2 linked regions of the Homo sapiens genome follow. The protein of the gene in region 1 interacts with the protein of each later gene in a pairwise test. Each region holds a gene or a part of one and is shown in the gene's direction. Other genes may lie near its edges.

Region 1 (6,957 bases):
AAAGAGGTAAGTTCTATGTGAATGTCTTTTTTTTTTTTTTTTTTTTTTTTGCATTTAGCCCATTTTCTTCAAGTCTGTGTTGAATTTAAAAAAGTACATCTAAGGCTATATTGTAAAGAAGAAGGCAATTTATAGATTGAAAGAGTTTCCATTTAAATTAGATACAGTGTTTGCATCCATAGGAATGAGAAAGTTCAGAGAACTAACCTTGACGTGAACTACACTTGCATTTATTGATTTATTGATTTAGGGACAGAGTCTCGCTCTGTTACCCAAGCTGGAGTGCAGTGGCTTGATCTCAGCTCACTGCAACCTCTGCCTCCCAGGCTCAAGCGATTCTCCTGCCTCAGTATACTTGCATTTATTACAGTTCACCTTATAGATCTTGTGATGACACAAGTTAACCACTTGTGGGTATTTGGATCTCAGTGTTGCAAAGGCAGAATACAGTGTTTGAAAGACAGGTAATGATGAGAAGAGGGAAAAAATGTATGTGAAAGGAAAGGGCAAGAGATGAAGAAAAGCAGTGTAACAAGGATAAGTGATTCTGTCTCCTCTACTTTTGGAATCAATTAAATTTTTCTATATTCCTCTATTTGGATATTCAGGGTTTGTAACTCATTTCTTTCTGAGTTGAGGGGTGACATAGGTGGGCATTATCTCATTTTATTATGATTAATTTTTAGGCTTATGTGCACAAGAGTGTAATGGAAGAACTGAAGAGAATTATTGATGACAGTGAAATTACAAAAGAAGATGATGCTTTGTGGCCTCCCCCTGATAGGGTTGGCCGACAGGTTTGTATTTAGTGATTCTTTAAGTGTATAAATATTAAAAATTGATAATACTATTTTGTTTCCCGTTATTTATTTGGAATGAGTCTAAGTTGATTCTTTGGCTTTCTATTTAATAGGCACCTGGTAAATTCTCTTTAATTTTATCTCTTAGTTCTGTTTTTCTGTGCTACCTCCTAGTAGTGAAGGAGTCAGTGCATAGCTCTAAATTTAGACATCTTTCTCTGTAGTCACCCCAGCCAACGTTAGGATGTTTTCACAATGCAGTGTTATGAATAATTTCTGTTGTGTGTTAATCACTTTTATTAAGAATATGACTATGTAAAATTTATTTTTGCCAAATCATAACTTCTAAAATTCTTACTTGCATCCCTATACCCCAGAGAGAAACTTGATTGGTGGTTTCTTTGTTAAAACTGATGATTGCATTTCCCTCTCATATTCCTTCAGAATAAATGATGTTTCTCAGGCTTCTGAAGAACTCTGAAGGCCTAATTTCACTCTGTAAAAAGAAAGTTTGGTTTCTGAATTGGGTCTTTTCAACTCTTGGAGAAATTCCTTCAACAACCCCTGGAAGGAAGAAACATTTAATTTCACTTTTGTATATCCCTGAGGATTGTACTTTGTATCACCTTCTTTGAATAGAAGAAAATGTGGAGAAATCTAACACATGCTGACACTCTGTAGGAGTAACTTAAGTCTTCTGCTTAAAGAAGCATTATTTAGAAAAGCAAAGGTAATAGTTAACAGTATTTATTTTAAGCATCGTATCACTTTTAAAAAGTAAATTTAGGCCTCAGTTTGTTTTATGCAGATACACATATGTACTAAAAAGCAAACCACAGCAGCTAACCTTTTATATCATTTAGACTCAGGGAGAGCCTAGTATTTTATCTATTCACTTAAGGATGTGTTCATGGGTTTTGGTTAGTGGGGAGGAGTAGGCATGCTTCAGAAATTGCCTTTTGTATCAAGTCAAAGGTTTTATGGCTGTTAGAGCATCTTAGCTAATTCTCCATTCTGTGTGTGTCATAAACTGCATAATTAGGCCTCTGATTAAATAAATAGCTAGGATTGTCTTCAATAGTGTCTGTTAACTTGAAGATTCATTACAGATATAGCTTTTTAATTATTGGTTTTAGGCCTGCAGATAAACAATATAGGGAAAAATCTATACAGTAATTACAGCACACTAGGAACATCTACATTAGGTTGGTTTTTTTTTTTTTTTTTTACTAGTTCTTAATTTTAGTTATTTTGTGGAGTATTAGTTTTGAAGTCTTACCATCTTGGGATCAAATATAAGTACCATCATTATTAGTGGTTATAAATATCAACAAGTATTTTCTTCTGCTCTATGAGTTTTGGATTACACATTTGTAAAATAGGTTAGTAAGGTTATTTTCAAGATTACAGAGAGTACAAAGTCCCTACCACTAGGGCCTGACATACAGTAGGTGCTAAAGTGGTGGTGGTTATTAATATTACACATTTTATTTGTAGAATCTTCCAGAAAGAAAAAATGTGTATTTATCATATTAAAAATGGTCTTATACTCCAATCATTTTTACAACATGTGCTTCAAAGTGATGTCTTTAGTTTTTACTGACATTGTAAGAAATATTTCTTTGTCATTTTGTTTCATAGTGTCTTCTTTATGTCTCTGGAAAGCAATTCTTTGTTGGTCCTAAACTTGGGGGTAGTGCGCGTGAGCAGTCTTTATTTTAAGGATATAGTTTATATCTAAGAAACCATGTTTCTTTCCCCCTCGCCCCCCACTCCCTCTGTTGGCTGCTAGAAAACTTGCAACTAAAATTGGGATCTGCTTGTAGCAAGAATACAGATACCTCTGGGATAGATTTTTATATTAACTACATTTTTCTGCTATATTTTTTAGGAGCTTGAAATTGTAATTGGAGATGAGCACATATCTTTTACCACATCAAAAATAGGTTCTCTTATTGATGTAAATCAGTCAAAGTAAGTATGTTAAAGCATTTTGGCGAAGTTTTCATTATTACAGAGGCTCATTTTAGAACTATAGTCAGTTTGCTAGCCAAGATAATTTCAGTGGCATCCTATCAGTTTATTATGCAGATGTAATCCTGATTTTTATGTCATTAAAGGCTTATTATCTTGTCTCTCAGTAGAAGTTAGCAGAGTATTTCATTGATTGTCCAAAAACTTTTAATCCAACAGCTGTATATAATAATGCCCAAGTTGTATTAGCTACTTTGTATAAAAATGTGGATACAGTATCAGCAAATCCAAAGGAAAGAAATCCTTATTGGATTATGTCAGCCTCATTAGGCCTATATCATCTCACTGTCCTTCTTGGGCTCAATACTTGGGAAAAAGATGGAAAAAATCCATTATGGCCTAAGTATGCTTTAGCTATCGATGTCTTCCCAAGATCTGTCTCTCCTCTGCCCCAGGGTTTTGTAGCACATCCCATTTTCTTGGTCTGATCCTAGCCACTTATTTTTATTTGTGCCCATTCCCCTCAAAGTGTCCCCATAGTGCTCTTACTTTTTTCTGTCACCCTGAATTGTAATAACCTATTTGTCTGCTTTACTGGTTTGAATGTAAGCTCCTTGAGAACCTTGCTGTATCCACAGAGTTAGCATAGTGCCCTGCACATAATAGATGCTTTCAATAAATATTTGTTAGTGGAAAGGAGAAAGGAATGAATGCATGATAACTATTGGACGCAAAATCTGTGTTCACAAAGACCATCCAAATGCTTTTAAACTATCAAATTTCTTTTCCTACATTTGGTAAGGGTGTGGCATTGATACCCTACTGGGATTATAAATTGGTAATGGTTTTTGGAAAGCAGTTTGGTAATATGCATCAAAAACTGTTGACATTTTTCATTCACCTTTGGCCTAGTAATTTCATTTCTGAGCATCTCTTCTATGGAACTATTCCTAAATATTGGAAAAGCTTTATTATGCATGAAGATGCTCATTGAAGTATTATTTATAATAGGAAATTAACCCCAGTGTCTAACAAGGAGAGAATTATTAAATTAATTAAAAATTACTAGGGAATTTTTTTTTTTTAATGCTGTGGGGAAAGTAATGTAAAAAAGGGCACAAGGAATAATTTTAGTTATTAAAAAATAGAGAAACATCAAAATGTTTATAGTTATTCTATGAAATGGTAGCATTACAGTATTATTTTTTTCTGCTTTATTAGACATTTTTATGATGTGGTTATTACAATCATAAGGATATGAACTCTTTAAATACTAAAATGAATACTGATGAAGAAACTATTTTTTCGTATAGAAAAGATATTAATTGTATGTTCATTTTAGTTGTCAGCAAAATCCTTCCTTTCTCCTAAATTTTGTTAACTTAATTGTTATGAGATTTTGATTTGTTTTGTTTTAGGCATTTAAAGAATTGTTTTATCCTAGGAAGAAAAAGTAACTTTTACCTTTTTAAATTTTAGGGATCCTGAAGGCCTTCGAGTATTTTACTATTTGGTACAAGACTTGAAATGTTTAGTTTTCAGTCTTATTGGATTACACTTCAAGATTAAACCAATTTAAATTGTATGTTTTCAGGCTGTTTGTATATTTAATTAAGGGATGGGAGGGGTTATTTGTCATTTACAGTATTGGGGTTTTTATGAATGTGAAGCAAACAAAAAAAATTTGTATGTAAACTGAAAATAAGAAAATACATTAGCAAGCTTAATGGTTATCCTTACTTGAGTCCATATGGGTTGGACAGTCCCCACACACATTAAATTCTGTAAATGAAAGCCACCTTTTGTTAAAAATTTGCTCTAATAAAACATACCAAATCCTGGTTGCAGAGTAGTTTTTTGTTTTTTCCAGGAGGCTATGTCTCTAATTCACTTTAGAGATAATAAGAAATTGTTCTGGTAGATATATCCTGTGACAGAAGATACTTTAGGTGGAACTATGTAGCCAGATTCCCATCCATGAAAGGCAAGTGTAGATTGTCCCTTATTTCCTTCATACATGATTGGATTTAATTTTGGGGGGCTTATACAAGGTCTAGTTTTTTTTTACAGTTATGACAAACCCCTCAGGGATTATTCACATTTAAATATTTTCAGTTATAAGCAGTGAGGTCCTAAAGTGTTACAAGAGTACAGTCTACCCCATGTTAGGCATATCTTTGATTATGTCTTTATTCCTTATTTCACAATGTATTTGGTGTGTAGGGGAGGGGGGAGAACTAAATGAGTTTTCAGCTTTATAAATTGTTAAACATTTAGACAAACATATATGTATGTATGAATGTACATAAATATTTTTAACTCCTATTGACCACGAGTCTCACTTCAGTTTCCCAGTTCCTTTCAACCTCTTTCTGATAGATTTCCTCTTTCATTACTTTTAGTAACCATGTTCCTTGTTTCCTTTTATTCTTCCATCTGAAGCCCCACTCTTAAAAAGTTGCACTGTTCCAGTAGTTATAATCCACTTGCCCTAGGAACAAGTTAGCACTGAATTTTGGGTGGAATAATTAGTTTCTGAAGGCTTGCCAGGACTCCTGAGCAGGTAGGCTCTAGAGTCGGGCAGTCCAATAACTTTTTTGCAATAATGGAAACGTTCTATGTGCAGTCCAATAGGGTAGCAACTGGCCAAATGAGGCCTACTGATTACTTGAGGTGTGCCTTGTATAACTGAATTTATGGTGCTATTTAAACAATTTTTTTCTAACGTGAAAAGGATAAAACATTAAAAACTCTTGAGAACTATAAAGTGAACACCTATATGCCTACCCCTACCTAGATTCTATACTTAACATCTTTTTTACTGTAATATCTCTATTATAATAAATCTTGGTTTTTCACTTAACTGGTGTAATTGGTGCCAATAAACTACTTTTTTTGTAGTGCTATTTAATTTTGATTAAATTTAGGTAGCCACGTGTCTAGCGGCTACCGTTTGGACAGTATAGCTCTAGAGCATGGCTTGGTAACCTGTTTGCCATGGAGCACTAGATGGTCCTTTTCACTCCTCAAAATGCATGCCCATTGTCTTCAGGTTTGCCATGGAAAGTCAAATGATTTCCACTTCATTATGCAAGTACGCTATCATCTTCAGGTCTTTTGTATGTAAAATGTTTCTGTTCCAGTTGTAGACCTTGATGATTGTGCAGTATGAAATCGTATTGTAATTTTCTTGCATTTAGATGTCAACCTCAGAAACAGGAACAATCGTCTTTTGAACTTCCAGTAGGCCCACAGTTGTTGGTTGTTCCTCAAAACAGGTTGTGGCTCCTGTTGAATAAGATGATCCATTAAAAACTGAACAAGGTTGAGGAGAAATAGTGCTTACGTTGAAAAATCTTTAAGTCTTTGTCCCCGTTCTCTAACTTCCTTACGTTTTCGTTTATTTAGCTCTATCCCCACTATCTACTAGAATTTCTCATATTTAAACCAAGATGGGAGACTAGGTCATTAGGAAAATATTACCGTCTACAATTTTCTTATACTTTGATCTGTCTTTTATTTGATTGTAAGTTGCTGATGGACAGTGATCATTAGAAACTGAATTTTGTATAATACTAGTTTTATATGAAACTAGATTTTTATTGCGCTCAGGTTATGTTCCTTTTACCTCCTTCCTTAATAAAGAGACCACTTGAAATAATCAGACTTTTTCCAAGTACTGTCTGCACCTCATCCCACCTCTTCCCCATTCATGAGATAGTGCAGAACCCTAGCACAGTCTTTTCCATATAGTAGGTGTTTTTTAAGTTTGTTGAATTGGTTGCTGTCTTGCTCTGTCCTTAGATTATTTGCCTTTAGATTATTTATCTTTGGTATTTCATTGGTATCAGGCTGAGTCTATTTGTATGGATATTTTTAATGTAAATATTAATGTAACTGAGATGATTTATATATTCTATTGTTAGACTACTTCGTTTTGATTTGAAATGTGTGAACCTATGAGCATGGACTGTGCTGTAAGTTTAACCACTGACCCCTTTAATTAATAACTGGATTCCTAGCATGAATGGATAATGAAGTCGAATAGAAAATTTTAAAAATTTAATAAACAACAAAGGTAAATGAAGGATTTGAGGGTGAGTTCAGAATCTGCCTTGGCTGACTTCCGTATGATGATCAGTAAAGTTGGATAACTACCACTCAAAATCTCTGGCATCTACCT
Region 2 (6,282 bases), on another chromosome or scaffold:
TTGTCCACCTGTAGGTACAAAAGTAAAAGACTGAAAATATTTACTAAATCAAAGAGATTTTTGCCCTAGGAAGGTTAACTAATAAGAGACTTTTTTTCCTAGGGTTTAAAAAATGTTAAATCACATTTTATGACAGTCAATTTTATATCCTAATGGAATCTCTTCTGGTAGTGAGAGAAGTTCCAGATTTTTCGTTGTAAAAATAGTCATATAATGGTCTAATATCCAGTTCTGTCACATTTTCTCATTACCTATCCCTCACAGGACTTTCCCTCAAGTCCCTACCTGTCCCCTCTGCCCCACACTCTGGCCCGGAGCCAGAGGATTGGCTCTGGGGCAGCAGGAACCTGTTGTTTTAGGAGATGGTGACCTTCGAGGATGTGGCTGTGCACTTCACCAAGACAGAATGGACTGGCCTTTCTCCTGCCCAGAGGGCCCTGTACAGAAGTGTGATGTTGGAGAATTTTGGGAACCTGACTGCTTTGGGTAAGGCCATTTTCCTCCTAGGACTCAGATCTGTACTTTTCCAGTTTCCTTCCTTCTTTTACAGCCTGGGGGGAGGAGTGTGGAGTGGAGAGGAGAGGTTGTCTCTTGTGTCCTCCACTGAGTGACTGCAGAGCTGAGGCTCAGTGACCAACTTCAAAGATTGCTGGGTAGGGAGAGGTCTTGGGTCACTTTGGTCTCCCAATGAAGGGAATTACTGTCCCCTGGTAAGAGTATGTTCCATCTTCCAAGAGGCTCTGCACAGTAAGGAATAAGTAGTAGTTGTTGTCTGGGGAAGGGCATGTCCCCTTCCCTGTGTTTGCTCATGCCTTGTGGATCTCACTGACTTACTTATCCTTGAGTGTTTTTTTTAGGAAGAAGTCACAAATGCTCAGTTTCCTGTTGATCGGAATCTCTTTGGCCTTCTCCAGTCGAGAACCCTCTTCTGTGGGTCTTATTCTTACTGAGACTCCTGGGGTTTTCCTTCTTTTGACACAGCAGATACAGGGCTGAAAAGTACCATTTTCTTCCTGTTTTCAGGGTACCCAGTTCCCAAACCTGCACTGATCTCACTTTTGGAGAGAGGGGACATGGCTTGGGGCCTGGAAGCACAGGATGATCCCCCAGCAGAGAGGACCAAAAACGTCTGTAAAGGTAGGTGAGGCAGATTTAGAACCAACAATTGTAGCGTTTTATGGAGCACTGTATTTTAAAATGAATCATGCTGGGCAGGATTTAAATAAAATAGATGATTTCACCTAATAGGTAAAATATGAAACGTTTCTCACCAATCTTAACTCTTACCAACATGTAATCACTCAGTACGTCTCATCTGCAATCCTTGAATCCATTGTTCCTTTCTGAGTTTCAACATTGCCTACCTTAGTTGTCCTCCTTGGTTGGGATGGATTTATTCAGGAGCAGTTTTTGAGCAACTTGCCATGTGCTGAACGTTGTTTAAGAAGTTCTGGCAGGTACAAGTTATGGAGACAGATGTAAAAAGCGAAAAAGAAAAGTATTAAGTGCTGTTGGGAGTGGGACGGAGAATGTGAAGGTAAAATGGGCCAGATCTTCCCAAAAGTTGGCCATAAATGGGGAGAGCTGAGTCAGATAACACTAGGAAGTCATGGCATGGGAGGAGCTTTTTGAATTCATAGGAATTCAGAGCTGAGCACAGGGCGTGAGGTGCCTTTAGAATAGGCAAGTGGATGGCTAGAGCAGGCCATTGAGAAGGTGGGTGGAGAGTCTGAGATAAAAGGCAGGTCTGAAACAGTACTCTAACACAGCTGGGTTGAAACGATCCCCAGGAAGAAAAAATGAAGGCTGAATCTTAACCATTAAGGGATATTTAATTTCAGTGAGAGAAGGAAGAGAAAGTAGACAGTCAAATAGATGGGGGCCACCAAGAGCAAACAGTGAAATTGAAGGCAGAGGCAGGAGTTTCAGTGCAGGTGGTTTGCAGAGAGCAAATACGTGGAAAATAATGAAGCTAGCACAGCACTTCAGCCTCTTATTCTAAGAATCTGAAAAAGAATCATCAAGACAATTGAGAACCTGTTGGTTTGTTCTCACACGCTTCCTCTGTCTGGTGATTATTCTTTTTCAGACTCTTGGTTACCTTGTTTACTTCAATCTCAGATTACTCTCCTCTGAACATTCTCCTTCGGAGTTCCCTTACTCCTTTAACTCACACTCATAGGATGAACTTGATTAACCATCACATGAGTCCCAGGTAACCCACATTAATGTTAAAACCAAGCCCATCATTTCATATAAAATGGATTGACTTTAACTCATTTAAAATGTCATCCAATCTTTTGGAACACAAATGCCATTTTATGGGCTGTTTGTCTCCTTTTTGCTGATAGGAGAAAGAATACTCTCAGTCTGGGTGTGTCTAAGTAAACTGTTCATCCCTTTTCAAATAGAGAGTCTAGGACAGTAGTTTCTCTGCATGTTTGAGGTTCAGCAGTTTTAGGGCGTTTCCTCATCGTCTATAGTCCATGTGTGGTTCTGCAGTTAAGAACCTCTGAACTAGGTAATCTTACAACATATTGGGAATAATACTCTCTAAGCACTTCTGTGATTTTCTTTCTCTCTGTCTTGCCACAACCCAGTGTCTGTAATGTTCAGTGTCTTAAGTCTTTTGGGACATCTGCAGGGTATGAGTTTTTAAAAAGAACAACAATTCATCCTTTGCCTTTGCTTTCTGATACTGTTCTGTTTCACTTTCTGATTCTAAGTCTTGCCAGCCCCGATGTCACTACTTGTTCTTAAGACCTGTGCCTTCTTTGGCATTTTGTAGGCTGTAAGTAGCATCAATTCAAAAGATACTAGCTCATGCCAGGGATGACCAGACATCATTCAAATATTAGAGTAGAAAAGCTTAGGAAGCAGTCTCGTGTGTTGTGTCCACTGATACCCTGTTCCACCTCAATGTTCTCTGCCTGTGTGATATTTGGCACTTTCACTTTAACAGCCTTTTCTTCCCAGCATGCTGATGTGAAAGTTGAAATGATCTCTTTTAAAGCCTTATCATTTTCAATGCTCTATTATTTCTAGTATAGTTCTCAGGTGGCATTATTTGTGTTTTCTATCTCTTATGTCAGATGTTGAGACCAACATTGACAGTGAGTCCACATTAATCCAGGGAATTTCTGAAGAAAGAGATGGGATGATGTCACATGGTCAGCTGAAGAGTGTCCCTCAGAGAACTGACTTCCCAGAAACACGTAATGTGGAAAAGCACCAGGACATCCCCACAGTGAAAAATATCCAAGGAAAGGTTCCAAGAATCCCCTGTGCAAGGAAACCTTTCATATGTGAGGAGTGTGGGAAATCCTTCAGCTACTTTTCTTACTATGCTAGACACCAGAGAATCCACACTGGGGAGAAACCTTTTGAGTGTAGTGAGTGTGGAAAAGCCTTTAATGGTAATTCTTCGTTAATTCGGCACCAGAGGATTCACACTGGAGAGAGACCCTATCAGTGTGAGGAGTGTGGGCGAGCCTTTAATGATAATGCAAATCTGATCAGGCATCAGAGAATCCACAGTGGGGACAGACCCTATTACTGTACAGAGTGTGGGAATAGTTTCACGAGTAGTTCCGAGTTTGTTATACATCAGAGAATCCACACTGGGGAGAAACCCTATGAGTGTAATGAGTGTGGCAAAGCTTTTGTTGGTAATTCACCCCTACTTCGGCATCAGAAAATCCACACTGGAGAGAAACCCTATGAGTGTAATGAGTGTGGCAAAAGCTTTGGAAGGACTTCCCATCTAAGCCAACATCAGCGTATTCACACAGGGGAAAAGCCTTATTCTTGTAAAGTATGTGGACAAGCCTTCAATTTTCATACAAAACTAACTCGGCACCAGAGAATTCACAGTGAGGAGAAACCCTTTGACTGTGTAGATTGTGGAAAAGCCTTCAGTGCTCAGGAACAATTAAAAAGGCATCTGAGAATTCATACTCAGGAGTCTTCCTATGTATGTGATGAGTGTGGAAAAGCCTTGACTAGCAAAAGAAATCTTCATCAGCATCAAAGAATCCATACTGGAGAGAAACCCTATGAGTGTAGCAAGTATGAGAAGGCCTTTGGGACTTCTTCCCAGCTAGGTCACCTTGAGCATGTCTACTCTGGAGAGAAGCCTGTGCTGGACATTTGTCGTTTTGGCCTCCCAGAATTTTTTACCCCCTTTTACTGGTAATAGTACACTCCAGTGAAATGTACTGAGTGGATTCCGTCTTCTACTCAGGAATGGAATGTGTGACACAGGCCTGACTCAGCCTCTGATCCATCCCTCAAGCCACAGTTAATGATTCAGATGTCAGTAGATGACCAAAGATGGTTCAATTAGAGTCCCAGGATTGCAAGAGCTAATAGGAACAAATACTCTCCCCCCGCCCACCCCCATTGGTTTTAATGCTGAGAAGAAGAACTAGACTCTTACAGAGGTGAGAATGAAGTCCACACAGCAAAAATGCATCTGAGAATTGGAGAGCAGTAAAAGACTGAAGATAATGTTTGAACAGCCACATACACCATGCCTGAAGCTAAAAATATATACGGGTTTTTGAATTGCAGCAGCCAATAAATTCCATTTTTGTTTGGTTGGTTTTGGCTTTGGCACACCTGAGTTAGGTTTTCTTGCCTTGGAACAGAATTTTGACTTAAACAGTGTTGTCATTGTAGCAGTTGTTTGAAGTTTTCAGGGATAACATACCTGATGGAGAAATGTTTTGTGTGTATGATATATGGGAAAGTCTTTAGTTATAGTCATGGCAGCTCCTCAACCCCATGATTGTGATGAGATTGGGAAGCCCACTGTAACACTGGAGAGCCCAGGTTATATCAGACACCACTAGTAGATAGAAGTTCTAACAACTTGAGCTCTGTAACAAAAATCTCATTGTACTACAAAATTATGTCTGCACCAGTGAATCCATTCTCAAGAAAAGTCTTAACTAGGAAACTAAAAGCTTTCACTCTTAAAGCTTTCATTTTCTGTTTATTCAGTTTTTTATTTGGAATGGATGCTACTCTAGGCCTTAAACTGAGAAATGCCAGGCTATTGTAGCTATTATATCTTGGTATTTGCCATTTTAATTCCTAGGACAGCACGCCCGCTTTGCCCTTGACCTGGCTAGGGAGCCAAGGAAATGCCATGGTTCTTGGTCATAAGACACACTGCAGAGATCTCTCAGTAGGAAAACAGGGCTGGCCCTTTTCTTTGGTGATGAACACAAACTGCACCCTTTTTTTCTCCCACGTGTCCTTCCGCTGCCAGCCAGTGTTGGAATCTCCCTACCCAATTCCAGACTTAATTGCTTACTGCGTCTAGCACCTGGGTGGCTTCACCACCTCTTCCTTACTTGTCAGCAGATGAATGAGCAGTTGTATCATGTGCTTGGGTTGACCAATGAATGATAGACTTGGGGAATTGAGTAAACACCTTTTAATTGAAGTATAACACAAACATAAAAATGCATGAGTCAGCCAGGCGCGGTGGCTCACACTTGTAATCCCAGTACTTTGGGAGGCCGAGGTGGGCGATTCATCAGGTCAAGAGATCGAGACCATCCTGGCCAACATGGTGAAACCCCGTCTCTACTAAAAATACAAGAATTAGCTGGGCGTGGTGGTGCATGCCTGTAGTCCCAGCTGCTCAGGAAGCTGGGGCAGGCGAATTGCTTGAACCCGGGAGGCGGAGGTTGTAGTGAGCCGAGATTACACCACTGCACTCCAGCCTGGTGACAGAGTGAGATTCCTCAATAAAATAAAATAAAACCATGAATCATGGTTGTACAACTTGAATTTTTACAAAGAACATAGCCTTATAATCACCAAGATAAATAAATAGAACATAGGACCTTACAAGTCTCCTGTACCTTGTTAGAGTCCTTATGGAACCTCTACCCTGACTTCTATCACCAGAAATTATTTTGCCTGTTTTTGTTCTTTTGTGTCAATGGAATCATCAGTACAGATTCATTCTCATTGCTATGTCGTATTCCATTACATGAATATACCACAATTTATTGCTTACTGTCGGTGGGCATTTGGGTTATTTCCAGGGGGATCTTTTTGAAGGCAGAAAACCTAAAAGCCACTCAGAAAAAAAAACTGGTTAAAGTAACCATGGTCAGGGACTGCTTCAAATGCTGCTGCATCAGCCCAGCTGCCCTGTAGTAAATGATAACAGCAGTAATTTTTTTTTGGCACTTAACATGTGACAGACACTTTCCTAGTCACTACACAGATTTACTCAATATGATAACTTTATGAAGAGTGTGC

What was found.
Region 2: the proteins of MAGOHB (region 1) and ZNF19 interact in binary tests that used the Homo sapiens proteins (3 or more experiments, as listed by UniProt).

The regions. Positions count from the first base shown.
Region 1 is NC_000012.12:10,603,671-10,610,627, reverse strand, and holds the end of MAGOHB (protein mago nashi homolog 2), read left to right. Parts: coding exon 1-6; intron 7-686; coding exon 687-797; intron 798-1,244; exon of another isoform or gene 1,245-1,530; intron 1,531-2,691; coding exon 2,692-2,774; intron 2,775-4,253; coding exon 4,254-4,353; 3' UTR 4,354-6,435; downstream 6,436-6,957. UniProt on the Homo sapiens protein: Required for pre-mRNA splicing as component of the spliceosome. Plays a redundant role with MAGOH in the exon junction complex and in the nonsense-mediated decay (NMD) pathway.
Region 2 is NC_000016.10:71,473,083-71,479,364, reverse strand, and holds the end of ZNF19 (zinc finger protein 19), read left to right. Parts: intron 1-359; coding exon 360-486; intron 487-1,023; coding exon 1,024-1,137; intron 1,138-3,092; coding exon 3,093-4,195; 3' UTR 4,196-5,782; downstream 5,783-6,282. UniProt on the Homo sapiens protein: May be involved in transcriptional regulation.